Homo sapiens: one gene and its partners. The protein of the gene in region 3 purifies or fractionates together with the protein of the main gene of each other region. This does not show direct contact. Each region holds a gene or a part of one and is shown on either strand. Other genes may lie near its edges.

Region 1 (3,500 bases), on a different chromosome or scaffold from region 3:
ATCCAAGTTCTTCTGTTGTAAGTAATAATTTACATTTAGCATTAGGGATTGTATTAAAGATTTAGAACTATAATATTTTAGTGATTGACTATATGATTTAAAACAAAATTTAGCTTGCAAAATACTGAAATTAATACAAACAACCATTCTCTAATGAATTATATGAATCATACAATTAGAATCAAAGACATATCAACAAAAAAAGCTTTACTTTGAAAAAAATCATGCTTATCACTGAATTACAAGGAGCTTTGCTAAAATGAATCTTTGCCAAGTTGAGTATTAAACTACTATTGGTTAAAGTACAATAGAAAATGAACATGTCACTTCCCATTTATAAAAAGTTGTAATTCTAGAAGTGTTTATGAATTTATAAAGGAATATAAAGAATTCTGTTTCGAGTGTCAAAATACTTTAATAATAGGCCACAATCACTTACATATTACAAACAAATGTCAGAAAGGAAATGGTTCAAATGATTTAAATAATATTTAAAAAATCAGATTTTTGAATCATTAAGTCTTCATTTAAGCCCAAATCCTATCATCCCACTTACCCTTTTCTTCTAAAAAAGTAAAATATAAACAAAATATAGGAGGTTTTCTCTTTTATAGTTGGGGCTGTTCTTTCAAAAAATAATTCCATCAAGTTTATGTGAACGTGGCTAGTATTTCTGCAGGTCATTTAGCAGGAAAATATAATTTACTGATTAGTAAAAAGTAATAGAATTTATTTTAAAAAGAAACTCACCCATCTAAAACTTCTGCTTGATATGGTATTTCAAGTTTAGAATAACTCTTTTCCTTTGCTTTAACTGTTATTTTCCCAGAAAACTGAGATGGCTTTTTTGCCTTCGATGCTGAAAGGAAGCATAAAAAATAATCTCTGTTACCTTTTACTACCAAAGAGAATTAGTGAATTTATGTAAATTGACAAAATCTTAAAAAAAAAAAAAGTTGAGCTTCCAAATTGGCCAACAGAACACTTTTTATAACATTTTAAATGAAACATCACATTTTTCATACAAAAGGGGGAAAATGTTTTATATTTCCTGTAATAAGATAAGCAGATAAGGAATTAGCTGGTGAGCATGGTTCAGGAGGTAAAACACTGTACCTAAGCTGCTTTGCTGTAGCCACAGGCTTTGGCTTTACTTACAGCAGAATTTCTCATCCTTGGCACTGTTAACATTTTAGGCCAGATTAATTCTTCGTTGCGGAGGCTGTTGTGTGTACTGTAGGATGTTTAGCAGCATCCCGGACCTCTACTTGCTAGACGGCAGTAGCATCCCTGCAGCTGTGACTACCAAAATGCCTCTCTGCATTGCCAGATATCCCCTTGGAGGCAAAATTACCCCCCACTTAGCCCTGCTGATTTACACTTGAACTGAGAAAGAAATAACATTTCTTGTATGGCCAAAGTCTTGCTCTATCACCAATAAAGTAGCATGGTATAAGAAAAGTCAAGAATTCAGAGCTCTTCTCAAAAACCAGCCAACCCTAAAACTCATGGTATAAGAGGAGATAAATCCCCTCCTGTCATCATATTATATTGTCCTCATCTTAGATGAAGTAAAAACTTCAGATTTCATAGCAGTTTTGAATAATCCTGGCTGGGTGCAGTGCCTCACATCGGTAATCCCAGCACTTTGCCAGGCTGAGGCAGCCAGATCACCTGAGGTCAGGAGTTCGAGACAAACCTGGCCAACATGGTGAAACCCTGTCTCTACTAAAAACACAAAAACTAGCCAGGTGTGGTGGCACGTGCCTGTAATCTCAGCTAGTTGGCAGGCTGAGGCAGGAGAATCGCTTGAGCCTGGGAGGTGGAGGCTGCAGTGAGCCGAGATTGCGCCATTGCACTCCAGCCTGGGCAACAAAGCGAGACTCTGACCCAAAAAAACAAAAATTAAAAAATAAATAAATAAATAAGGAATTACAGAAATTGATTCAGTTGGGTCCAATCTAGGTACCCATTAGATGGTTCTTTTCAAAGCAAATAAAGAAGCTGTTTATGTTTATCCTCTTAGAGTACTTTAGGAACACTTCCATTTATGTGAAGAATTCATATGTGAGTTCCGCAAATGTGTGTCATCCAACCTCATGACAAAAAAGAACAAGGAAATGGTATGACATCTAGTGTTTGACTATGGCAGACACAGACTTTCCATTTTAAAAATTCCCATTCAGCCTCTTATTTCTCTGCTTGCTAGTTAGCCATCTCTGGATGCTTTCAATTTTTCACTATTTGTTCTGACGTAAGACTGATTACAAGGGCCACATTTAAGCATTTCATGACATTGTATCATACATAGCAAATAAAGTGGTCAAAAAGCTCAAGAAAATTCTGTTGAAAATCATGAAGAATAACTTTTGATGAGAAAGATGCTTGATAAATGAACACTGCAGAGTTAATACATATATAAGGTGCATTCTAACAATATTAAAAGTTAAATAACACACACTTCCTGACTGATTTTCACAGCAATCTCAGAGGTATTTTGTGTGGGGATCCAGCATGGCAGTGGGAGAGGTGAATGGTGGGGGGATTTTCACATGATATTAAAAACCTACTTTTAAGAAATGTAGCATTTGCTCTTAAAGATGCTTTCCCTTTGCTGTTGTTATTTAATTTTACATATTTCTTTAAGAAACAATTATCTTAGAGCCTACGATCTCAGAAGAACCAACACTAATGACATCGCATTTATCTCAAGAAGGGAAAGATTAAGTGGGTGGTCAATACAGGAGCTAGAGAAGAGTAGCTCTTCACCCTTGCAGAGCAGCTCTTCACCCTTGCAGACCATGTGGAGAATTTTCCGGCACATCTGTGAAGGGTGGGTCCTAAATGCTCTTATCCTGGCTGGGTGCAGTGCCTCACGTCGGTAATCCCAGCACTTTGCCAGGCTGAGGCAGCCAGATCACCTGAGGTCAGGAGTTTGAGACCAGCCTGGCCAACATGGTGAAACCCTGTCTCTACTAAAAATACAAAAATTAGCCGCCTCCTCCTCTGTAAGGGAAGACAATGTACCTCGTGATACTGACACTGGTAGGCATGAATGTGGTCTCTCAGCAGCATAGAGAACACTTTACCACAAATGTAGAAATTACTGTGGCATTAATGTCTTCTATAATACTATTTCTTGACAACTGTATCATGAAGTATGCTGCCTATGTGATTTTTATTCCTTGAGAGTCCTCACTGAGCTCACAGGATGAACCCTGAGGCCAGCCCCACCTCCGTAGCTGCTCCAGACCCTCCCTAGAACTCTCCACAGTGAGCAGCAGGCATAGATACTCTCATAAACACTGTGTGAAGTGTGCCAGTGTCCTCCTACATTCATTGATCAAATATTCTCATCCGATGAGGAGCTGAGCTTTACTATGTGGACTCTGAGCACAGATGGCTTTATCATAAAGCCAAAGTTTAAGCTTAATAGCAGCTACTCAGTTGCATGGGTGCCTATGAAAAAAGCCCTGTTCAGAGGTTCAATTCTCATTTAA
Region 2 (3,500 bases), on a different chromosome or scaffold from region 3:
GAAGAAAACCAAAGCAGTCCCAGGAAAGTCAGGCCTATAAGGTTATTATTTGGTAATTCTGTTATATGTCTTTATTTTGCCTAAATAAGCAAGGCAATTTAGGCGGAAGATAGCTCTTGTCTTGAGTATTTGGATAACTGCACTTTCCCATACTACAACTGTGAAAAGATCAGCTTGTTTTATATATATATATAGATATATATGTATATCTATATATATATGGAGATAACTGCTGTGCATTCAGAGAAGAAATTTCTGGATAATTTGTAATCTGGAGTAATGTTAAATTTCTTATAACCCCATGCCCCAAAAAGGGTTGTGATTTGCATCTGCTTTTCTCAAGATCAGGCACATCATTTGGCAGTAGTAATTAAGATCATCACATAGTAAAGAGTTGTAGAATTATAGGGGTAAACTTAGTAATCTATATGGCAGAGAACTATTTGTATTTTGAAGAGAGATTACATTTGCCATCACATTTCTAACTATACTACTAAGTATACTAAGAAAACACCAATTCAAGAATGTTTATTTATTTATTTTTGAGATGGAGTTTCGCTCGTTGCCCAGGCTGGAGCAATGGCGTGATCTTGGCTCACTGCAACCTCCGCCTCCTGAGTTCAAGTGATTCTCCTGCCTCAGCCTCCTGACTAGCTGGGATTACAGGCATGCACCACCATGCCCAGCTAATTTTTTTGTACTTTTAGTAGAGACCGGACTTCACCATGTTGTCCAGGCTGGTCCCGAACCCCTGGCCTCAGGTGATCTACCCACCTCAGTCTCCCAAAGTGTTGGGATTACAGGTGTGAGCCACCATGCCCGGCCAAGGATGCTTATATGATGCAAAGCTATAGTTTCTAGTTTTTTCTTTATGTGAGGTACACTGAAAGCTGGATTTACACACAAATGTAACCAAACTTGGCTACTTCAGCCAGGGTCCAGCAGCTTACCAGCACAAGCTGGGGGTAGTCACGACACATCTTGATGATGGAGGAACAAGCATGCCTCCTCACATTCCTCACTGCCCGGGTTCTGGGGGCCTGAAAAGAGACATTCAACAAACTCGGAGCTGCTTTTAATATAATATACAGGTGCTGCATAGACTCATGTGAATATCTCAGTCAGGGGCAAATTCACAATGATTTTTCACAACCCTAAGAGTATAATGGAGTAACATTTATAGCCACCAAGAATCCATGTTTCTTGTATGCCCTATAGTGGCAAAACAACATATATGATAATCTACCACCCTTACTACCCCCTCCCATTTATATAAAAATATAAACTGAGTATCAGGTATTCATACATTTGTACTCAAGAAGTTAGAATCTATTGGTTTAATTAATGGTCTTACCTTACTTTCTTCAACAGTTTCAAAAGTGACAGATGAAAATAGCTAAGGGAGAGGAGGAAAAAAGGTCACTCATGTTTATTTGTTTTAGAGATGAGATCTTGCTATGTTGCCCAGACTAGACTTGAATTCCTGGGCTCAACTGATTCTCCTGCTTTAGCCTTCTGAGTAGCTGGGACTACGGGCATGAGCTTATTCATACTGTCCATTTTCTCAGATAACCTCTACAAGAGTCATCGGAGTCACAATTTTACCATCAAAACATTTTACAATAGGATCCCAGAACAATTCATGCCATCACCCAAGCACTTGGCTATGGAAACGCCTCTCTCTTCTTTTATCAAAAGTTGTATGGTCTATCCCTTCTATTCCATTTCATTATTTCCCATTTACTCCTCATTCCAATGAAATATGGCTGCTTACTTGGCCACTATTATGGAATTAAACTCAGACAAGAGTGTAGTCAAGAAACTCACTGGGCATTCTCCAACTCAAATAATTTGCAACAAATGAGCCCACTTTTCTGAAGTCCTACTGGTCTTGTGACACAACATTTTCTTCATTTCTCTGGCTCTTTTTCCTTCTGTGGGGGCTTCTCATTTTTTTCTCCACTCCTCCAATGATGGTGATTCACTAGGTTCCTCGCTTGACTCACATGTCTCCTAACTCTACATACATAATCACTTCAGTAAGACTTCACTTTTAGTCGTGGGACTACTATGATGATGATGCTTTAATTTTATCTCATTACTTTCTAGAGTCTAGATCTTCAACCTCAAATAGCCAATTTATTGTGAGATGTCTCCATAAAGATGTTCTACATATTCTTCAAACACAGTATTCCAAAATACTCATGCTTTCTCTTCTTTAGTCCCGTTCTCCTTTGTGATCTGGTATTCTGACTCAGGGAGTGGCTCTATCACCCACCTAGTCAACTGAACTGGAAACCTGGAAAGTGTTCCTTCCTCTCATAAATCCCCTCCCTGCCCGACAGCACACTCTAATACTCTCCTTTATACAAGTCTTCATTGCAATGCCATATAGGTAACATTAACTGTTTTTGTGCCTTTCTTCCCAGAGTGTTCCTAAAGAGTGAGGCACTAGCATGGTACCTGATCCACAGTAAGTACTGAGTAGATATTTAATAAATGAATAAATAGCTGTGTTTATTAGTTTGCCTCACATAATTTTAAAAATAGTTACAAAAATAATTAGCCTAGGCCAGGCATGGTTGTGCATGCTTGTAGTCTCAGCTACTCAGAAGGGTGAGGTGTGAGGATCCCTTGAGACTAGTAATTTGAGTCCAGCCTGGGCAATGTAGCAAGATCCTGTCTCCAAAAAAATAAAATAAATAAAAATTAACTTAGAAATGTCAAAATAAAATTTACAAAGGAGATGGGCTTTATACCTTAGAGAAGACCTGGGGCAGGAACTCTGGTCTGTAGGTGACAAATGGAAAGAGTGCAGAGACATTAGTAAGGACGCAGGACAGGATGAGGGGATCCTTGGTATCAAAGTTCAGAACCATCTGCAATAGCTCTATTCCATCATTAACAGGAATTTCCTGTAACAAAGACATAAAACAGGTTGACAATGGCTGCCTCCACTTAGAAATAACCATTTTGGCTACATTTTATTTTCATCTTTTAAAGAGACAGGGTCTCATTCTGTCACCTAGGCTGGAGTGCACAGTGGCACAATCATCACTCACTGTAACCTCAAACTCTTGAGCTCAAGGGATCCTCCTGCCTTAGCCTCCTGAGTAGCTAGGACTACAGGCGGGCACCACCATGCCTGGATACTTTCTAAAATTTTTGTAGAGATGTTGTAGAAGTGTTGTTATGTCGACCAGGCTGGTCTCAAACTCCTGGTTTCAAGTGATCCTACGGCCTCAGCCTCCCAAGTAGGTGGGACTACTGGCACGCACCACCATGCCTGGCTAATTTTTTAAATTTTTAGTAGAGATGAGGTCTCACTATATTGTCCAGGCTGGTCTCAAACTCCTGGGTTCAAGCATTCCTCCCATCTTGGCCTCCCAAAGTGTTGGGATTACAAGTGTGAACCACCGTACTCAGCTGTGCGTGCCCTTCTTACCATCTTCTCAGCAGTGTATTATTCCCTAAAACCTCTTAAATTTTGTATTTCTTCA
Region 3 (3,500 bases):
GTTTTTGTTTTTTGAGACAGGGTCTCACTCTGTCACCCAGTGGCACAATCATGGCTCACTGCAGCCTTGAATTCCTGGGCTTGAGCAGTCCACCTGTGTCAGCCTCCCAAGTAGCAGGGATCACAGGCGTGTACCACTGTGCCAGGCTAATACATGATTTTTTGTAGAGACAAGGTCTTACTATGTTGCCCAGGCTGGTCTTGAACTCCTGCGCTCAAGTGATCCTCTGACCTCAGCCTCCTAAAGTGCTGGGATTATAGGCATGAGCCACTGTGCCAGCCAAGCCGAGGGTTCTGTTGGACAAAGCTGCCATCCAGATTTTTCAAGTAAATGGTCTTTCCTGCAAATTGTCTGCTTTCCAATATTTATACTGTACTTTTTATCTCTCTCTCCCTTTTTTTTTTATTTTTTATTTTCCTTTTTAGAGATAAGGTTCTGCTCTGTTGCCCTGGCTGGAGTGCTGTGGTGCAATCATAGCTCACTGCAGTCTCTGAACTCTTAGGCTCAAGCAGTCCTCCCACCTCAGCCTCCCGAGTAGCTGGGACTACAGGCACGTGCCACCATCCCTGGCTAATTTTTGTATTCTTTGTAGAGACGAGGTATCACTATGTTACCCACCCTAGTCTCGAATTCCTGGGCTCAAGCTTTCCCCACCCTCTTGGCCTCTCAAAGCACTGGAATGACAGGTGTGAGCCACCATAGGCCCGCACTTATTTTCTTGACTTTCCTAAGTAAGTTAGAACTTTCAGGATAATATCGATGGACCCTGATAAGGAGCACCCTTGTCTTATTCCTGCATCTAGAGCCAGGTTCCCCCAACATCTCAATGCAACGACTCCCCAGAGGTATTTGACCACAGGTCACTTTTGTCACCAAGAGTTAGAGAATCCACATTCCACGTTTTGCCAGGCACGATGGCTCACCCCTGTAATACCAACACTTTGGGAAGCCAAGGTGGGAGGACTGCTTGAGCCCAGAAGTTCGAGACCAGCCTGGGCAATTTGGCAAAACCCTGTCTCTACAAAAAATACAAAAATTAGCCAGTCGTAATGTTACAGGCCTGTGGTTCCAGCTATTCAAGAGGCTGAGGTGGGAGGATCACTTGAGGCCAGGAGGCGGAGGTTGCAGTGAGCAGTGATCACGCCACTGCACTCCAGCCTGGGCAACAGAGCGAGACCCTGTCTCAAAAACAGAAACAAAAACACATCCTTTTTTTTTTTTTTTTTTTGAGAGGGAGTCTCATTCTGTCACCCAGGCTGAAGTGCAGTGGCATGATCTCAGCTCACTGCAACCTCCTCCTACCCGGTTCAAACGATTCTCCTGCCTCAGCCTCCCAAGTAGCTGGGAATACAGGCGCACACCACCATGCCTGGCTAATTTTTGTTTGTTTGTTTGTTTTGCATTTTTAGTACAGACGGGGTTTTGCCATTTTGGCCAGGCTGGTCTCAAACTCCTGACCTCAAGTGATCCATCCACCTCAGCCTCCCAAAGTGCTGGGATTACAGAAGTGAGCTACTGCACCCGGCCAAAAACAAAAACATATTCTAAGTTCTCCACTCAGTATAATGTTAGTTGTTAGTTCCAGCAACTTCTTTTTCTAGTTTATTTATATTACATTGAATGTTCATTTCTGTATAATGTTAGTTGTTAGTTCCAGCAACTTCTTTTTCTAGTTTATTGATATTACATTGAATGTTCGTTTCTGTTCATACTAACGCTTTTTTGGCATCTAAAGAGATGATCTGGCCAGGCACGGTGGCTCACACCTGTCATCCCAGTGCTTTGGGAGGCTGAGGCGGGAGGATGGCTTGAGGCCAGGAGCTCAAGACCAGCCTGGCCAACATAGTGAGACCCCATCTCTACAAAACATTTTAAAAAATAGTCAGATGTGGTGGTACATGCCTGTGGTCCCAGCTACTCGAGAGGTCGAGGCAAGAGGATTCCTTGAACACAGGAGATTGAGGCTGCAGTGAGTCAGATTTGTGCCACTGCACTCTAGCCTGGGTGACAGAGCAAGACCTTGTCTCTAAAAATGGAGGGCGGGGGGTGAGGAAAGCCAAGCACAGTGGTTCACACCTGTAATCCCAATGCTTTGAGAAGCTGAGATGGGAGGATCTCTTGAGCCCAGGAGGTCGAGACCAGCCTGGGCAACATAGTAAGATCCTGTCTCTACAAAAATATTTTAAAATTAGCTGGGTGTAGTGGTGCATGCCTGTAATCCCAGCCACTCAGGAGGCAGAGGTGGGATGAGTGCTTGAGGCTGGGAGGTCAAGGCGGCAGTGATCTATAATCACACCACTGTACTCTAGCCTGAGTGTCTGACCACAGGTTGCTTTTGTCACCAAGAGTTAGGAAATCCACATTCTGAGTTTTGCTGGGCACAGTGGCTCACCCCTGTAATCCCAACACTTTGGGAGGAGGAAGGGAGGGAGGGAAGGGGAGGGGAGGGTAGGAAGGAAGACAGGGAGGGAGAGAGGGAGGGAGGGGAGAGGAGAGGAAGGGGGAAGGAAGGAAGGAAGGAAGAAAGGAAGGGAGAAAGAAGAAAGAAAAAAGAAAAAGGAAAGGAAAGAAAGGAAAGGAAGAAAAAGAAGGAAGAAAGGAAGGGAGGGAGGGAGGGAGGGAGGAAGGGAGTAGGGCCAAGCATGGTGGCTCCCACTTGTAACCCCAGCACTTAGGGAGGCAGAGGCAGGAGGATCACTTGAGCCCAGGAGTTCAAGACCAGCCTTGGCAACATAGCAAGACCCTGTTCTCCTCCACCAAAAAGGGGAAAAAAGACAAAAAGTTAAAAAGGAGCAATAAAGAGAAACGAAGCCAGAGCACCTGGGTTCTACCTCGTATCCACCAAGGGTTGGCTGGGTACCCTTCGAGGTCAAATGGGAAAAAATCTCATGTACCTTTACCTTCCTTAAATGGCTGTTTTGGGCACCAATGGCCTCCTCTATTAGGTGAAGACACCACAAAGGCAGGGCTAGTGGCTGATTCACCAGTGTTCTCCGGGACCCCCAGTCGTGGCAGAGAGGAGGTGCTTGAAGGATGTTTGAAAGGAGACAGGGTGAGCAGGGAAAGGAGAGGAGCTTCAGGTGGGTGCAGTGGTTCACACCTGTAGTCCCAGTATTTTGGGAGGCCAAGGTGGGAGGATCACTTGAGGTCAGGAGTTCAAGACCAGCCTGGCCAACATGGTGAAACCCAGTCTCTACTAAAAAATATAAATAAATAAATTAATTAATTAATTAATTAAATTTAATATGAAAATTAGCCAGGCATGGTGGCTCACACCTGTAATCCTAGCACTTTGGGAGGCCAAGACAGGCACATCACTTGAGGCCAGGAGTTTGAGACTAGCCTGGCCAACATGGTGAAACCCCATCTCTACTAAAAAAAATAAAAATAAAAAAAATACAAAAATTAGCCAGGTGTGGTGGCGCAAGCCTGCAGTTCCAGTTACTGGGGAGGCTGAGGCAGGAGAATCACTTGAACCCAGGAGGAAGAGGTTGCAGTGA
Region 4 (3,352 bases), about 26 Mb from region 3:
AGCAAAGCTTCCTGTTTGGAACACAGAACACCTCACCTTCCAGCCCTGCCGCCCCTGCTGCATCTTCAGCACCTCCCATGTTCAAGCCCATTTTCACGGCTCCACCCAAGAGTGAGAAGGAAGGCCCCACACCGCCTGGCCCTTCAGTCACAGCCACAGCGCCCTCCAGCTCCTCCCTCCCCACGACCACCAGCACCACAGCCCCGACCTTCCAGCCTGTCTTTAGCAGCATGGGGCCACCTGCATCTGTGCCCTTGCCTGCTCCCTTCTTCAAGCAGACAACTACTCCCGCCACTGCTCCCACCACAACTGCCCCGCTCTTCACTGGCCTGGCCAGCGCCACCTCTGCTGTGGCTCCCATCACCTCTGCCAGTCCATCCACAGACTCTGCTTCGAAGCCTGCGTTTGGCTTTGGCATAAACAGTGTGAGCAGCAGCAGTGTGAGTACCACGACCAGCACCGCCACTGCCGCCTCACAGCCTTTCCTCTTCGGGGCGCCCCAGGCCTCTGCTGCCAGCTTCACCCCGGCCATGGGCTCCATATTCCAGTTTGGCAAACCTCCTGCCTTGCCCACAACCACCACAGTCACCACCTTCAGCCAGTCCCTGCACACTGCCGTGCCAACGGCCACCAGCAGCAGCGCTGCCGACTTTAGTGGTTTTGGCAGCACCCTCGCCACCTCCGCCCCGGCCACCAGCAGCCAGCCCACTCTGACGTTCAGTAACACGAGCACCCCCACGTTCAACATTCCCTTTGGCTCAAGCGCCAAGTCCCCGCTCCCATCATATCCGGGAGCCAACCCCCAGCCCGCATTTGGGGCCGCTGAGGGGCAGCCACCGGGGGCCGCCAAGCCGGCCCTTGCCCCCAGCTTTGGCAGCTCTTTCACTTTTGGAAACTCTGCAGCCCCGGCTGCTGCACCCACACCTGCACCTCCGTCCATGATCAAGGTCGTGCCTGCGTACGTGCCTACGCCCATCCATCCTATCTTTGGCGGTGCCACGCACTCGGCGTTTGGGTTGAAAGCCACGGCTTCGGCCTTCGGCGCTCCCGCCAGCTCACAGCCCGCCTTTGGCGGCTCCACTGCTGTCTTCTTCGGTGCAGCCACCAGCTCCGGCTTTGGAGCCACCACCCAGACCGCCAGCAGCGGGAGCAGCAGCTCGGTGTTTGGCAGCACAACACCATCACCCTTCACGTTTGGGGGTTCGGCAGCCCCCGCTGGCAGTGGGAGCTTTGGGATCAATGTGGCCACCCCAGGCTCCAGCACCACCACCGGAGCTTTCAGCTTTGGAGCAGGACAGAGTGGGAGCACAGCCACCTCCACCCCCTTCGCAGGGGGCTTAGGTCAGAACGCCCTGGGCACCACCGGCCAGAGCACACCGTTTGCCTTCAACGTGAGCAGCACAACTGAGAGCAAACCTGTGTTTGGAGGTAAGGAGGGGCGTGGACTTGGGCTACCGGGCCGGACACTGAAAAGCTGTGCCTGCGAAGCCTGTGGTCTCGGGGAGCTTATGCTGTGGCAGTGAAGAGACAGGCACTGAATATAGAACTCAGTGAGATGCCAGGGAACGATACATGTTTTGCTAACGTAGTAATGACTGGAGGAGCCATTGTGGATTTAACTGGTCAAAGGCCTTCTGAGTAGTTAACAATTGTAAGCTGAAGGTTGGGCGCAGTGGCTCACGCTTGTAATCCCAATATTTTGGGAGGCCAAGGAGGGTGCATCACTTGAGGCCAGGAGTTCAAGACTAGCCTGGACAACTTGGCGAAACCCTGTCTCTACTAAAAATACCAAAAAATTAGCCGGGCGTGGTGGTACCCACCTGTAATCCCAGCTACTCAGGAGGCTGAGGCACAAGAATGGTTTGAACCCAGGAGTTGGAGGTTGCAGTGAGCCAAGATCATGCCACTGTACTCCGGCCTGGGTGACAGAGCAAGACTCTGTCTCAAAAAACAAACCGTAAGCTGAATATGGGGGTGGGCACAGCACAAGTGGACATGCCTTTCAGGCCCAGGATGGCGCATGCAAAGGCCCAGAGGCAGAAACATGTTTGGTATGTTGAAGAGCAGAACAAAGACAAGCATGGCAGGAGGGCAGGAGCTAAAGCAGTGGTGTGGAAGGAGGCCAAGAGGCAAGGATTGTTTGTGGCCAGGGTTGGGTGTTTGGGTCTTAAGTGTTCAGGAAAACCATTGCAGAATCAGGCAGAAGGATGCAGTGATGGTTCCTCCCATGTGGAAGATGAATGTAGATCCCATGGCTTCTGTTTGCTTCGTGAAGTAGAGAAAATCTGGGAGAGAGAGGGTCAGGATAAAGTGTATAAAAAAAGGGGTCTTTTGAAATAGTCATTTTGGACAGTGGGGGAAAGGAACATCATATTAAAAAGTGTGATCAGTTTCCAGGCAGTTTGTGGGCTGGAAAATTGTGATTGTGAAGTTAAAGTGAGGCCAGTTAGCATGGCATGTGTTTCCCAGCGACACTGTGGGTGTAGACCTAAGGTCAGCGGACAGCTGGTGCCACCCGGCCATGGAGACCCCAGCAAGCACAGCAGGAGGGGCAGCGGGTCAGTGCCCCGATGCAGCTCAGGGGGTGCAGGAGTGGAGAGCGGGTGAAGTCAGCTGCAGGAGGGGTGGTGCCTACAGGAGATTCGGGAGCCGGAGCAGTTGTGGTGACAGTGTGGCTGCAGGAGTGGTGGCAGGGGTCGGGGAGAGGAGGTCATGGGGGTGGCAGGGTTGAGGGGCTGAGAGGACCATCAGTCAGCCTCACAGGGCGAAGTCACCGTGAGTGGTGATGGGAAGGAAGCCAGTGAGCCAAGGGTCCTCTGTGAATCAGGGAGTGACCTGGCAGTTGACAGGTGACATGAGGACATGGCAGATTAAAGTGATCTGAACTTGAGTTACGGTATTTAGGGAAGGAAGAGAAACAGTGTGGAAGCAGCGTGGGAGCACAGGGAGCTTCCTCTTGTCCGGGCCGGAGGCCAAGCCCTGAGAGCAGCCATCCCTGCAGAGGGGCTGCCAGAGAGGGCCTCGGGCAGGCAGCCAGAGCCAGTCAGGGCAAGGCCGGGGAAGGGAGGGGACCACGGGGCATCACAAAAGACGCGGGACGGACAAACCAGGCTTCAGAGGGGAGGGGACGGTGGCTGGGGGAAAAGGCCTGAACAGAGGAGGTAGCCAACCCAGGTACGCTAGGAGGCGGGGGCCCCAGAGTACTCCCCTCTGCAGCGATGGTCAGGAGGCCCACGAGGTGGCTGCGGGGCAGGGGGGCTTTTTCTCTGCCCTGGCGTGGCCATTAGCGGGTGGGAGAAGCAGGCTGAGCTGGGGCACCAGGCATGAAGACTCGGTTGTCTGGCTCAGCTGC
Region 5 (3,500 bases), on a different chromosome or scaffold from region 3:
GTTCCCGCAGCTGCTGGGCCTCCTCCACCTGCTGCACTGCCAGTCTCTGCTGTTCCAACTGTTCCTCATAGGGTGATTGGAATTTGATCATTGGCTTGGCTGAAGGGTACACCTAGGGTGAAAAAGAGTTGGTGCAGAGCAAGAGGGGTTAGCTCCTCTGGGTTTTCTCTTCATTTGTTTCTCCTGACAAACTCAGGAGGCAGAGCTGGTTTATTAACGACTATTTGTCAGGTGAACTGTGATTATACATGAAGTCCAAAAACTCCTATTTCCCAACTTTCTCTGAATCACCCTTGGCTTTTTTAGCAGCTGATATTTCCAACTACTGCTATTAAGGCAGATTTTCAATGTGCTCCCTTCTCAAATGGAACAGAAGGGACAACCGAAGATAACAGTTTCAAACTGTAAAATTTATGTTCACAAGGCTCTGATATAAACAAGTAGTTGGTAACTTTGGTAACTTCACATTAACTGGGCAATCTGTGACCTTATGCTACGCCTAAGGCTTTTTCCATGAACAGTTAAAGACCGAGGGATGCTAATTAACTCTAGTAATGTATATACCAATCCCAGGCTAAGCATAGCCAAAAAAAAAAAAAAAAAAAGCCACATTCCAGGTAATAGTGGAAAAGCAGATATTCAATTTTTTTTCAAAGAAACTAAGAATGGCTGAGAAGATGGTGCCTTCTGATTAAAGGGAAATCTGATACAGCAATTCTTAAAACTCTGCTTCCCTGAGATATTATCTCACCCCAGTTATAATGGCTTTTATCAAAAAGGCAACAACAAACGCTAGTGAGGATGTGGAGAAAGGGGAACCCTCGTACGCTGTTGGTGAGAATGTAAATTAGTATAGCCAATATGAAAAACAGTATGGAGGTTCCTCAAAAAGCTAAAAATAGAACCACCATATGATCCAGCTATCCTATTACTGGGCACATATCCAAAAGAAAGGAAATTGCTATATTGAAGAGATACTTGCACTCTCAGGTTTATTGCAGCATTACTCACAATGGCTAAAACATGAAATCAACCTAAGCATCCATCAACGGATGAATGGATAAAGAAAATGTGGTACATATACACAGTCATAAAAAAGAATGAAATCTTGTCATACGCAGTGACATGGATGGAACTGGAGGCCATTATGTTAAGTGAAAAACTTCAAGCACAGAAAGACATACATTGCATATTCTCATTCATGTAGGAGCTTAAAAAAGCGATATTGATAAGATAGAGTGGATTGGTGGTTACTAGAAGCTGGGAAGGGGGATGAAGAGAGACTGATGAATGGTACAAACATATAGTTAGAGAGAAGGAATAAGACCTAATGTTTGGTAGTTCAGTAGGGTGACTACGATTAACAATAATCTATCTTATATTTCAAAACAGCTAGAAGAATTTGAATGCTCCCAAAATAAAAAAGAGATAAATGTTTGATGTGATGGGTTATCTAGGTTTGATGTGATGGGTTATCTAGATTTGATCATTATACATTATATGAATGTTTCAAAATATCGCCCATACTCTGAAAATATATACATATATTATGCATCAATAAAAAGTGTCTGTACCCCATTGAGCTACTACCCATCCTCCCTGCCATACCCCAACTAACAAAAGCACACACAATTCTCACTTAAGGAAAGAGGTAGAGGGTTGGGAAGTAAAGCTGGTGGGGAATTACTTCCCCTATTGGGGAAGGACACAAGACTGGAAGAAGCTTTCTGAGGTTAAGTTTGCAACTACCTAAGAGGGCAACTACAGAGGTCTTCACACCTGCTTAGCCTAAAGCCTCAAGCGGCTTGAAGTCTCAGAAAATCTGAGGCCGAATAAAACTTCAGAGTTATAAATAGAAGGTGATCCACACCCATGTAAAGGCCAGGTAACCTACTATTGAGACTCAGTTTAGAGACAGTAAAAGAAAGGCATCTAGCTGCACTAACTGTTGGTTTAAAAGAAGAAAGGGTAGAGTTTTCTTTTAAAGCATCATTTATAATAATCCTGGCCATTTTTTTTTAAGAAAGGGAAAAGTCTTACGTGTAAGTGGCGTGTCCAGTAAGGGATCCTGAGCAGAGGCTGTTTAGATATGCTCACCTAGTAGAATATCTCCAAGTAGTAAAATCAGATTTTTGATAATTAAATAACCACCTTGAAGGTGAATACAAAAGGCAACATACTGACAATAAATGAACAGGGAGAGGAGGACGCCTGATCATAGAAAATGAGATTTTTCTCTGCCTCAAGATGCTCAAGACAAAACTTGGGTACAAGCTGGGAAGGTGCCCCATCAGGTACTCACCTGTTCTACTCTATTAAGGTGATGTGAGAATGAATCTCTGACTGTGTACAACTGACAAAAAGAAGAATGCACACATACAACAGCTGTGCTCTCTCATCACCAATCATCTTTCTGAGGTATGCGAATAGCTATGCTATTAACATTACAAGAGAAAACTTAAATATGAGCATATAATGTTTAGTAGAATCACTCACATTTCTATTTTAGAGATTGTGATATATTACCTTAATATGTAAAAATAAAGCCAGGTTTTCCATCCCAGTACACCATACCAGAAGCGGGTGACTTCATACCTCAGCACGCGCGTGCCCTTCCAGGAGGTTGGCTGCTTCTCGTTGCTCATGCTGCTCTTTCCACTCCCGATCCTGCTCCTCTGGTGATGGATCGTGTTCCTCCTCAAGATGTTCTGCTTGCCCGACCTGCTCCATTTCTTCCTCCTCCAGGGCCTTTCTGTGCTCCTCTTCCACCTGATGCTCCTCAGGTTCTCTGCGTTCCACTTCTTGTTGGATTGGCTCTGGGGGAGCCTGAAATTCTGCCTCCTTATGGGTGGGAGCATAGAGTTTTGTGTCTTCTGCTCTTCCAGGAACTGCTTCATGGTTCTGCCACACATCATTATTTCGAGACACCTAGGCCAAGCACATCACTGGGAATGACACTCTTCCAATTTCAAAAGTAATGATGTAATTTCTTGATTTCCATGTCTATGGGGCATGGGGCTACAACAGAAGAAGGTGTCTAGAAATATATATAGTCCTGGCTTTATGGCTGCAATGGAGTCACTTAAGTTTCTTACTGTGTAATCTCACTTATAAAATAGACATAATATAAGCAAAACTTCATCTGTGAAGAATACAGTAAATAACCTGGAAAATAAAACCTCCAAGTAACCAATATCTCAGAAGTACTCTAATTCCTATTTTCCCTTAGAATAAAAAGGAACAAAACCTCAAACTTCAAGTGATGAAATGTTTACATAATTTTCTTCAATGTAAATTTTGTTTTCAGTAATTATTTGAAAAGAGAAGGATGAAATAAAATTGAGGAGTTGGGTTTAGTTTTTACTAGTTTGGTTTACTAATTTAAAAAAGAATGCCATTGGCCGGGCGCGGTGGCTCACGCCTGTAATCCCAGCACTTTGGGAGGTCGAGGCGGGTGGATCACGAGGTCAGGAGATCGAGACCATCCTGGCTAACACAGT
Region 6 (3,500 bases), about 97 Mb from region 3:
TGGCCTATGGGCTGCTCTGGGCTGCTCTTTGGTTTGGGTGCCTCTGTGCTGTCTGCAGAGACAGGAGAACTGTCAGTGGCTGGACACTTTCTGACCTGCTTCCAGCGGTGGGAACTGTACAAGCCATGGCGAGTCCTGCCCGGGGACTGTCACCCAGGAGGAAGAGCTCAGACCTGGGCTCTGTGTTCCCCAAGGACCCCAGGTCTCGCTCAGGTCCACAGGGATCTCAAGACTCTGAACAGGAACGTGCATGCTGGCCAGAGGCAAATGCTGCCCAAAGACAGGCTGAGAGTTTCTGTGGGGGCCCCTCTCAGGTGGCATCAGCAAGTGTGCACTGCCCTGTGTGGCTGTGCAGGCCCCGTCCCCCTCCCCAGGCTGGGTCTCTGTGTTGGCCCCACCCCTCCCCAGGCTGGGTCTCTGTGCTGGCCCCACCCCTCCCCAGTACCTCGGCGGGGCGGCAGGGAGGCTGTGAGCAAGGAGTGGAAAGTCTGGCCTCCGGAGGCGCCGCGCTCATGCTGGACCTCCACCAGGTGGGCCATGTAATCTGCAAACCGTAGCAGGGTCACACCTGGGCGCGGCCAGGGGCCAGGGAGCAGGTCCTTCCCTCTCCACAGAAACCAGAGTTGGAGATGCCCCCACCGTCACCAGCACTTCCCAAGGACTTCAGAAGCTGGGTGAGCTCAGTCAGCACTGAGGCCCCAACAGCTCCCTCCAAGCTCAAAACACGGCCCTAGGGGGTGCCTGGCCCCAGGGTTGGGGCAGGCCCAGGCCTCGGCTCCCTCCTGACTGTGCCAGCCTCACCAACCCACAGGTCTAAGCCTGCCCTCGAGTGCCACCCACACCCACCCGACCTCGGATCACCCACCCGCTCGCACCCAGGCCCCAAAAGCCTGGCCGGGCTGGGGCTCGGTCAGCGTGTGTGAACCCACTCCGCAGGTCCCTGGCATCTTACTCTTGTCCATGATGTTCTGCTCCAGAGTCTGGGGGTCGTGGGCCACTGCCTGGTCCAGGAACTGGAGGAGTTTGCTCATGCTGGACACGGGGATGCCAAACGACTGCACGAACAGCAGCAGCTGCTGCGGCTCCAGGTCCTGCAGGGCTGAGGGTGCACGCGCTCCGTAACGCCACCCAAAACCCGGGCAATGCGCACTCGGGACCCCACCCGAGACCTGGGGCTGCCTGTGTGCAGTGACCCCACCCACCTGAGACCCTGGGCCACGTGGGCTCGGTGACCCCACCCAAGACCTGGGGCAGTGCACACTCGGCAGCCCCACCTGAGACCCTGGGCCACGTGGGCTCGGTGACCCCACCCAAGACCTGGGGCAGTGCACACTCGGCAGCCCCACCCGAGACCTGGGGCAGTGCACACTCGGCAGCCCCACCTGAGACCCTGGGCCACGTGGGCTCGGTGACCCCACCCGAGACCTGGGGCCGCACAAGGGGGCAGCGTGTCGGGACCACCTTGCACCCTGGATGGCAGCTGTGTGGGCCCCATCCCCAGGGGTGGGTGGGCGCTCCAGAGGGCCTATGGTGGCACGGCGCAGTACACTTCCGAAGCTGCACGCAGGCTGCTGTGACTATCTTCTCTCAGTGCTCAGGGCGCTCTTGCCCCGAAGCCATCGGTGGCTTCCGGGGGCACACAACAGCCTAGACCCCTTGGCAGTCATGGGTTTCCAGAGCCAGCCCCACTCACTCACCAAGCTGCCCCCAGTGTCTCCTCACTGTGAGCAGGCACCAGCCCTACTGACCTACGTGGGCCCAGGCCCCTTGCTCAGTCCTTGCTGGGGTCCCCGGCTGCAGCTCCAACCCCCAAATCCTTCAGGGACCCACCCAGAGGCCCCACCACTTCTCCTCCTCCTCTCCAACCCCAGACCACTTTCTCTTTTTTCCATCGAGGACCTGTTTCTCACTCTAGACCCCTGAGCCTGACAGTAAGACCCTCTCGGACGGGGCCAGCACAGGCTGCCCTAGGTCTCCTCCCAGGGTCCAGCACAGCCTGCTGTGGCCAGGACATATGGTCTGCAGGATCCCCTGAGGCTACCCGGCCAGTCTTCTCCTCTGCCACAGCCGGAGGCTGCCCAGGCCCACAAGGAGCAGGCAAGGGGCCCGGGACCCCTGAGTCAGCAGCCCCTGCCCAAGCCCAGCCTGGACCGTACCGGCGTCCACCAGGCGGAGCACCTCAGAACGGATCATGCGCAGCTTCAGCCAGTCAGGAAGCAGCAGCGCCTCCTCCGATGTGTCCACCAGGAAGGCGGTGGGCAGTGGCTTCTCCTCCGGAAACCAGATGTCCAGCAGCGCCTGGAACTCGCTGTCGTCGGCTTCAGGAAGGACAACGGGTGAGCAGCCTTCAGACCCACCGGGGCCCAGCCCCAAGCACCGCTGGTGCCAAGGCTAGAGGCACCTCCTCTCCCGAGAAGGAAACTGAGACTTGGGAGGAGCACGGGGCTCCTGTGCTAGGTGAGCACTTGCTATGTGCGGATGCTTTGCGTAGGTGCACGCATTTGATCCTCACAGATGCTGCAGGAAGGCAAGCAGCATCACTGCCATTTTGTCGTGGCCAAGGGGACATGTGCGTGTCCCCATCCAGCCCCTGCCCTCGGGGCTTTGCTTGGCTGGACCAGGTCCCATCCAGCTCTCTGGCTCCGCAAAGCCACTGGGAAACCCCACAGGCCCAGGCCCACACAGGGCCAGCTTCTCCGGCTGCCCTTCCCAAGGGCGACGCCTGTGACTGTGTCTGCCTCCCAACAGGGGTCACCACCCACCCACGTCCACCCGAACCCCAGCATGAGGGTTCCGCCCCCTTCCCCCACTGACAGACACAACGGGGTGAACGTGGGAGCAGTTCATGGTGTCAGCCAGGAGTAAAGGGGAAGGCTGCGGCCGCAGAGGGCACGGCTGGGTAGGCGCTGGGTTCCAGACACTGCGCTGGCCAGAGCGTCCTCAGGGTCACTCGCCTGGGCCCCGGGGAGAGGACCCACTTGCCTGGCAGCCTCATGTCGCACCTCCACACGGTGAAATCCCGAGTTTGCCGCCTCCCAGGCACCGCAGGCCTACACGGTTAGGCTGGGGCAGTGAGGACTCTGACCCCAGGCTGTACCAGGCCCTCCAGCTCAGGGCTCTACAGGCTGGGAGGTCCCACCACGTGGGGATCTCCCACACGTCCACCAAGTGCTCAGAGACACGCGGGACGGACTGCAGCCTCCTCTTTAGGAGAGAAGCCAGGACACAGGGTTGAAGGGCTGGGGGGCTTCCCGCCCAGAAGCAAGGCAAGGATGCGGAAGCCGCTGGGTGTGGTCAGGGCTGTGGCCCACCTGGCACGAAGCTGCCCCTCCCGGGGCCTGTGGCGGCTCACCTCGAGGCGGGCCCAGCGTCAGCAGGATCACCATGGCATGGACCACGAGGATGTGCATGGTGGCTGTCTCCCCGCTGCTCCAGCGTAGGAAGACCTGGTCCTGAGACTCCGACTGTGGGAAAAGAGGTGGAGTCAGGCCGTAAGGTTC
Region 7 (3,500 bases), on a different chromosome or scaffold from region 3:
TATGCTAATGAAAATTAAAGGTAAAGTAAAACTGAAATTCATTAACATTTAAGGTAAATCTAAATACGGCATTTCTGAATATATGGCCATGTTCTACCTGTTTAAATTTATTTACTCAATCTTTGAGTGTATCCCTTTGCTCCATATCAACTTAGCAAACTACAACATTATAGGAAAAATAAGAGAAAGCAAGCTCAGAAAGTGCTCATGAATAACTCAGCAAGTATTGAATGATGTGTTCAAAATTATTCCTGATTTTTAAAAAGTCTCCTTTTATTAAATACATCATGTATACTCTTCATGGGTCTTTTGTTAATACATTAAAATAAAAAGAAATGTAAGTGTAAGCATATTTTTAAGAACATGAAGTACATTATTTAATGTTTGCATCCATCTATTTTTGTGTAAAAGTTGTTTTCTTGCAGTTTTTAGTTTTAACTTTAGCAATCGGAGGTATAGAAATCAAAAGTTATTTGTACTGACATTGATCTCTTTTGTATTTTTAAGCATATCGTCATTTCCTTGTCATTATTGTATAAATGACAGTGACAGTCTCATTAGGCTTTTTAGAGCTTTACAAAAACATAACTAAATATACTGCTATTTTTCCTAACATCAAAATGTACATTATATTCATTATGAAACTGCATATTTAGCAAAAAAACTCTACAACTTTAATAATTATTCAAACATTCTGATTAAAAGCAAGTAGTGTCAATTTTTAGCTTTTTTAATTATGCAAGGGACTTACTTTAGACTTAGAAGATGACACTATTTCTATTCTGAATGAAAAAGGACACAAGTATCAAAAACTATCACCATATGAATTTGAGGGGCAAAATGGTCAGGAATAGTTTTGTTTTAGAGTTTGTATTATCAGACTAACTATAAATTTTTTATGATTATTAAGTCAGAGTCATGGTGTAATTTTAAATATAATTGGATGACTCTAAGATGACATTAAATACTAAAAGTTAAATTAAAAAAAAAAACCAGTCTAGACATGATTAAAGTCGTATGAAGAACTAAGAAGAGCAGAAGTGAAAACAACAAAATAGCTATTCTTCTGCAAATTTTCCACCACAGGTCACACGTCAACCCAAACCCTAAATTTTGAGCCGTGTGAACTGGCTAAAACAGATTAGGGAAAAAAACTACAATTAAAAACTAACTCATTCCAACATATGTATATTCATATATATATGAATATATGTATGTATATATATATGTGTATATATATGAATATATGTTGGAATGTGTTAGTGCATATATATACACATATATATGAATATATGTGTATATATATGAATATATGTATATAATGAATATATGTGTATATATATGAATATATATATAAAATGAGCAAATAATTAAAATTTTCCTGGTGAAATAATAGATGCATTCTTTTGATTTTTAGCAACACACATAACTGTTAATAAATTTCATAATCCCTGAATCAGATTTCTAAATGAAAGACCAGATTCTTAAGAAATAGAAAAATTTGCATTAAAATATATGCAGCATTAATATTTTAATAATAAAAATTGTTTCCATTAGTCTTATTAATAAAAAAATCCAGTCAGTAAAGAAAAGACATCTGTAAATGTTAAAAATTCCAGGTCTATGTGTAAGTGTAATTTCACCAAGATTAGTACTCACTAAGAGCAAAAGAGGGCAAGTTGATTTTCCCACTATATTTGAAGTAGATTTACCTGTTATTATATGGTAAAAGCAAATATTTGTATTTATTTAGAAATGCAAATTTTTATTAATCTGAATCATATACCCTTCACTTTTTGCCTTGAAATGATTAATAATGTATTTCTATAATGTACATTCTTAGTTTAAGTGAAACAGTAGTTAAATATGCTGTTTAAAATTTGGAAAAGTTTTACTTTTAATAATAAATAAAATTTTGAATCCAGAATTCAATTTCAGAGGCAAAGATCGCATCATGTTCCTCACTTATTAAAGTTTGATTTTAGGCTATTTTAATTCACTAGCATGTGTGGATTTGTGAGTTAAACTTAAGACATTAGCATCCAAATTGCATTTTAGACATCTCAATATTTCCTGTCTTTAAGTATTTGTTCTCTCTTTGTATAACTTTAAAAAAATAAAGCAAAACAAATGATTTTTTGGTTCTGAAGTGCTAAAGTGGTACATCATGCTGGGGTATTTGTGGTTCTGAGTAATTTGAAAAGCTGAAAACAATCCTTCATAAAACACCACCTATTGTTGTCACTACAATGTATGCATCTAATAAAAGACCATTCCTTTAAGCATATAACACTTGTCTATTTGCTTTATCTATGTCCAGGTTAATAGCCACAACCTCAATGCATTCAATCTTTGCTTTTCACGTTATACTTCATAAAGGCTAAAATAAATATTCCTCTGTTTTTTTCCTTTAAGTTTTTAAAAACTCTTTTACTTTTCAATTTCATCAGTCATAAAAGAAATGACATATCTACAATCTGTCTCATCTTTCGTTCTAGCTTATAAGTTCCACAGTTATTTTTGTAGTAGATGAAATAAAACATTACGTAGGATGGATCTGCTATGTAAGTCATCTTTTGATTGAGTTGTTATGAGTTTTATCTTTATCAAACATTATTTATGTAGTTTGACCAAGATATTGAATTGCCAGTAATATTTATCCATTAACTAAAAGAAAAATATTTCTATTTCTCATTACCAAGATCCTCAAAGGAAATATATTATGGAATCTCAAAGCATTTTTATTGTTTGCAATGATTATATAAAATAATCAATTTGGAGAATATAGTCCTATATTTTGAAAGAGCTCAGTGCAATTATTAATGTCTCAATGTTAGAGGAATCTATTATTTTAAATAAAGAATATTGCCCTAAAGTGCTGCCAGCATCCAGTCACTTTTATCTTTATTTCTTAAAAAAACCTGAACTCCATTTTTACCAAAAAGAGTGGAATGTTGAACTTTATCTCCTCAAAGGGAACACTTTAACAGAGCCCTTTGTGTAATACTTACTCAAATATGGTGGTTTGTAAGGCGCTCGCGTATTAGTCAGCAGTCCATCCAGCTCCTTCCTCTCCAGAGTGCTGTGAAGGGCCTTCTCTTTGCCAAAGGTGGAAAAGGACCGCTCTGCCCCAGGCTGGGCTTCTGGAGTTTCAAACACCTCAGTGTCTGGAACAGAGTCCATGCCAGGAACATGCAGATTGCTGCGATAATCAGCAGCCTGGCGTCCATCAGAAGGGACAAAAGAAGGCATCCAGCACCGATCTGAGTGGCCCAGAGCTTTACATTCCTCAGTGCAATTGGAGAAGAGATCCATACCTGTAAGCAGAAAACAGAAACTACGGATGTAGTCTTCACCAACATGACCAGTTACTTAGCAGTGTAAGATTACAGGTAGCATAAAGGGTGACAAGTGAAGTTGTCTTAACAAATTTTTCCTGGCTTATCCTGACAGGAACCAAATATTATTTTGTCTCATTTTTGTTCATCACTTTAAAAAGG

What was found.
Region 1: the proteins of TMEM130 (region 3) and TMEM131 purify together in Homo sapiens (affinity purification with mass spectrometry; one large-scale study listed by BioGRID and IntAct). This does not show direct contact.
Region 2: the proteins of TMEM130 (region 3) and XPO5 purify together in Homo sapiens (affinity purification with mass spectrometry; one large-scale study listed by BioGRID and IntAct). This does not show direct contact.
Region 4: the proteins of TMEM130 (region 3) and POM121 purify together in Homo sapiens (affinity purification with mass spectrometry; one large-scale study listed by BioGRID and IntAct). This does not show direct contact.
Region 5: the proteins of TMEM130 (region 3) and GOLIM4 purify together in Homo sapiens (affinity purification with mass spectrometry; one large-scale study listed by BioGRID and IntAct). This does not show direct contact.
Region 6: the proteins of TMEM130 (region 3) and INTS1 purify together in Homo sapiens (affinity purification with mass spectrometry; one large-scale study listed by BioGRID and IntAct). This does not show direct contact.
Region 7: the proteins of TMEM130 (region 3) and PCDH10 purify together in Homo sapiens (affinity purification with mass spectrometry; one large-scale study listed by BioGRID and IntAct). This does not show direct contact.

The regions. Positions count from the first base shown.
Region 1 is NC_000002.12:97,814,449-97,817,948, forward strand, and holds part of TMEM131 (transmembrane protein 131 precursor), read right to left. Parts: intron 860-3,500; coding exon 751-859; intron 1-750.
Region 2 is NC_000006.12:43,548,539-43,552,038, forward strand, and holds part of XPO5 (exportin-5), read right to left. Parts: intron 2,916-3,500; coding exon 2,760-2,915; intron 2,474-2,759; exon of another isoform or gene 2,432-2,473; coding exon of another isoform or gene 2,430-2,431; intron 1,397-2,429; coding exon 1,355-1,396; intron 1,041-1,354; coding exon 951-1,040; intron 1-950. UniProt on the Homo sapiens protein: Mediates the nuclear export of proteins bearing a double-stranded RNA binding domain (dsRBD) and double-stranded RNAs (cargos). XPO5 in the nucleus binds cooperatively to the RNA and to the GTPase Ran in its active GTP-bound form.
Region 3 is NC_000007.14:98,856,515-98,860,014, forward strand, and holds part of TMEM130 (transmembrane protein 130 isoform b precursor), read right to left. Parts: intron 1-3,500.
Region 4 is NC_000007.14:72,942,095-72,945,446, forward strand, and holds part of POM121 (nuclear envelope pore membrane protein POM 121), read left to right. Parts: coding exon 1-1,428; intron 1,429-3,352. UniProt on the Homo sapiens protein: Essential component of the nuclear pore complex (NPC). The repeat-containing domain may be involved in anchoring components of the pore complex to the pore membrane. When overexpressed in cells induces the formation of cytoplasmic annulate lamellae (AL).
Region 5 is NC_000003.12:168,029,925-168,033,424, forward strand, and holds part of GOLIM4 (Golgi integral membrane protein 4), read right to left. Parts: intron 2,929-3,500; coding exon 2,596-2,928; intron 113-2,595; coding exon 1-112. UniProt on the Homo sapiens protein: Plays a role in endosome to Golgi protein trafficking; mediates protein transport along the late endosome-bypass pathway from the early endosome to the Golgi.
Region 6 is NC_000007.14:1,480,390-1,483,889, forward strand, and holds part of INTS1 (integrator complex subunit 1), read right to left. Parts: intron 3,465-3,500; coding exon 3,353-3,464; coding exon of another isoform or gene 3,312-3,352; intron 2,319-3,311; coding exon 2,157-2,318; intron 1,100-2,156; coding exon 953-1,099; intron 545-952; coding exon 446-544; intron 53-445; coding exon 1-52. UniProt on the Homo sapiens protein: Component of the integrator complex, a multiprotein complex that terminates RNA polymerase II (Pol II) transcription in the promoter-proximal region of genes.
Region 7 is NC_000004.12:133,162,794-133,166,293, reverse strand, and holds part of PCDH10 (protocadherin-10 isoform 1 precursor), read right to left. Parts: intron 3,318-3,500; coding exon 3,012-3,317; intron 1-3,011.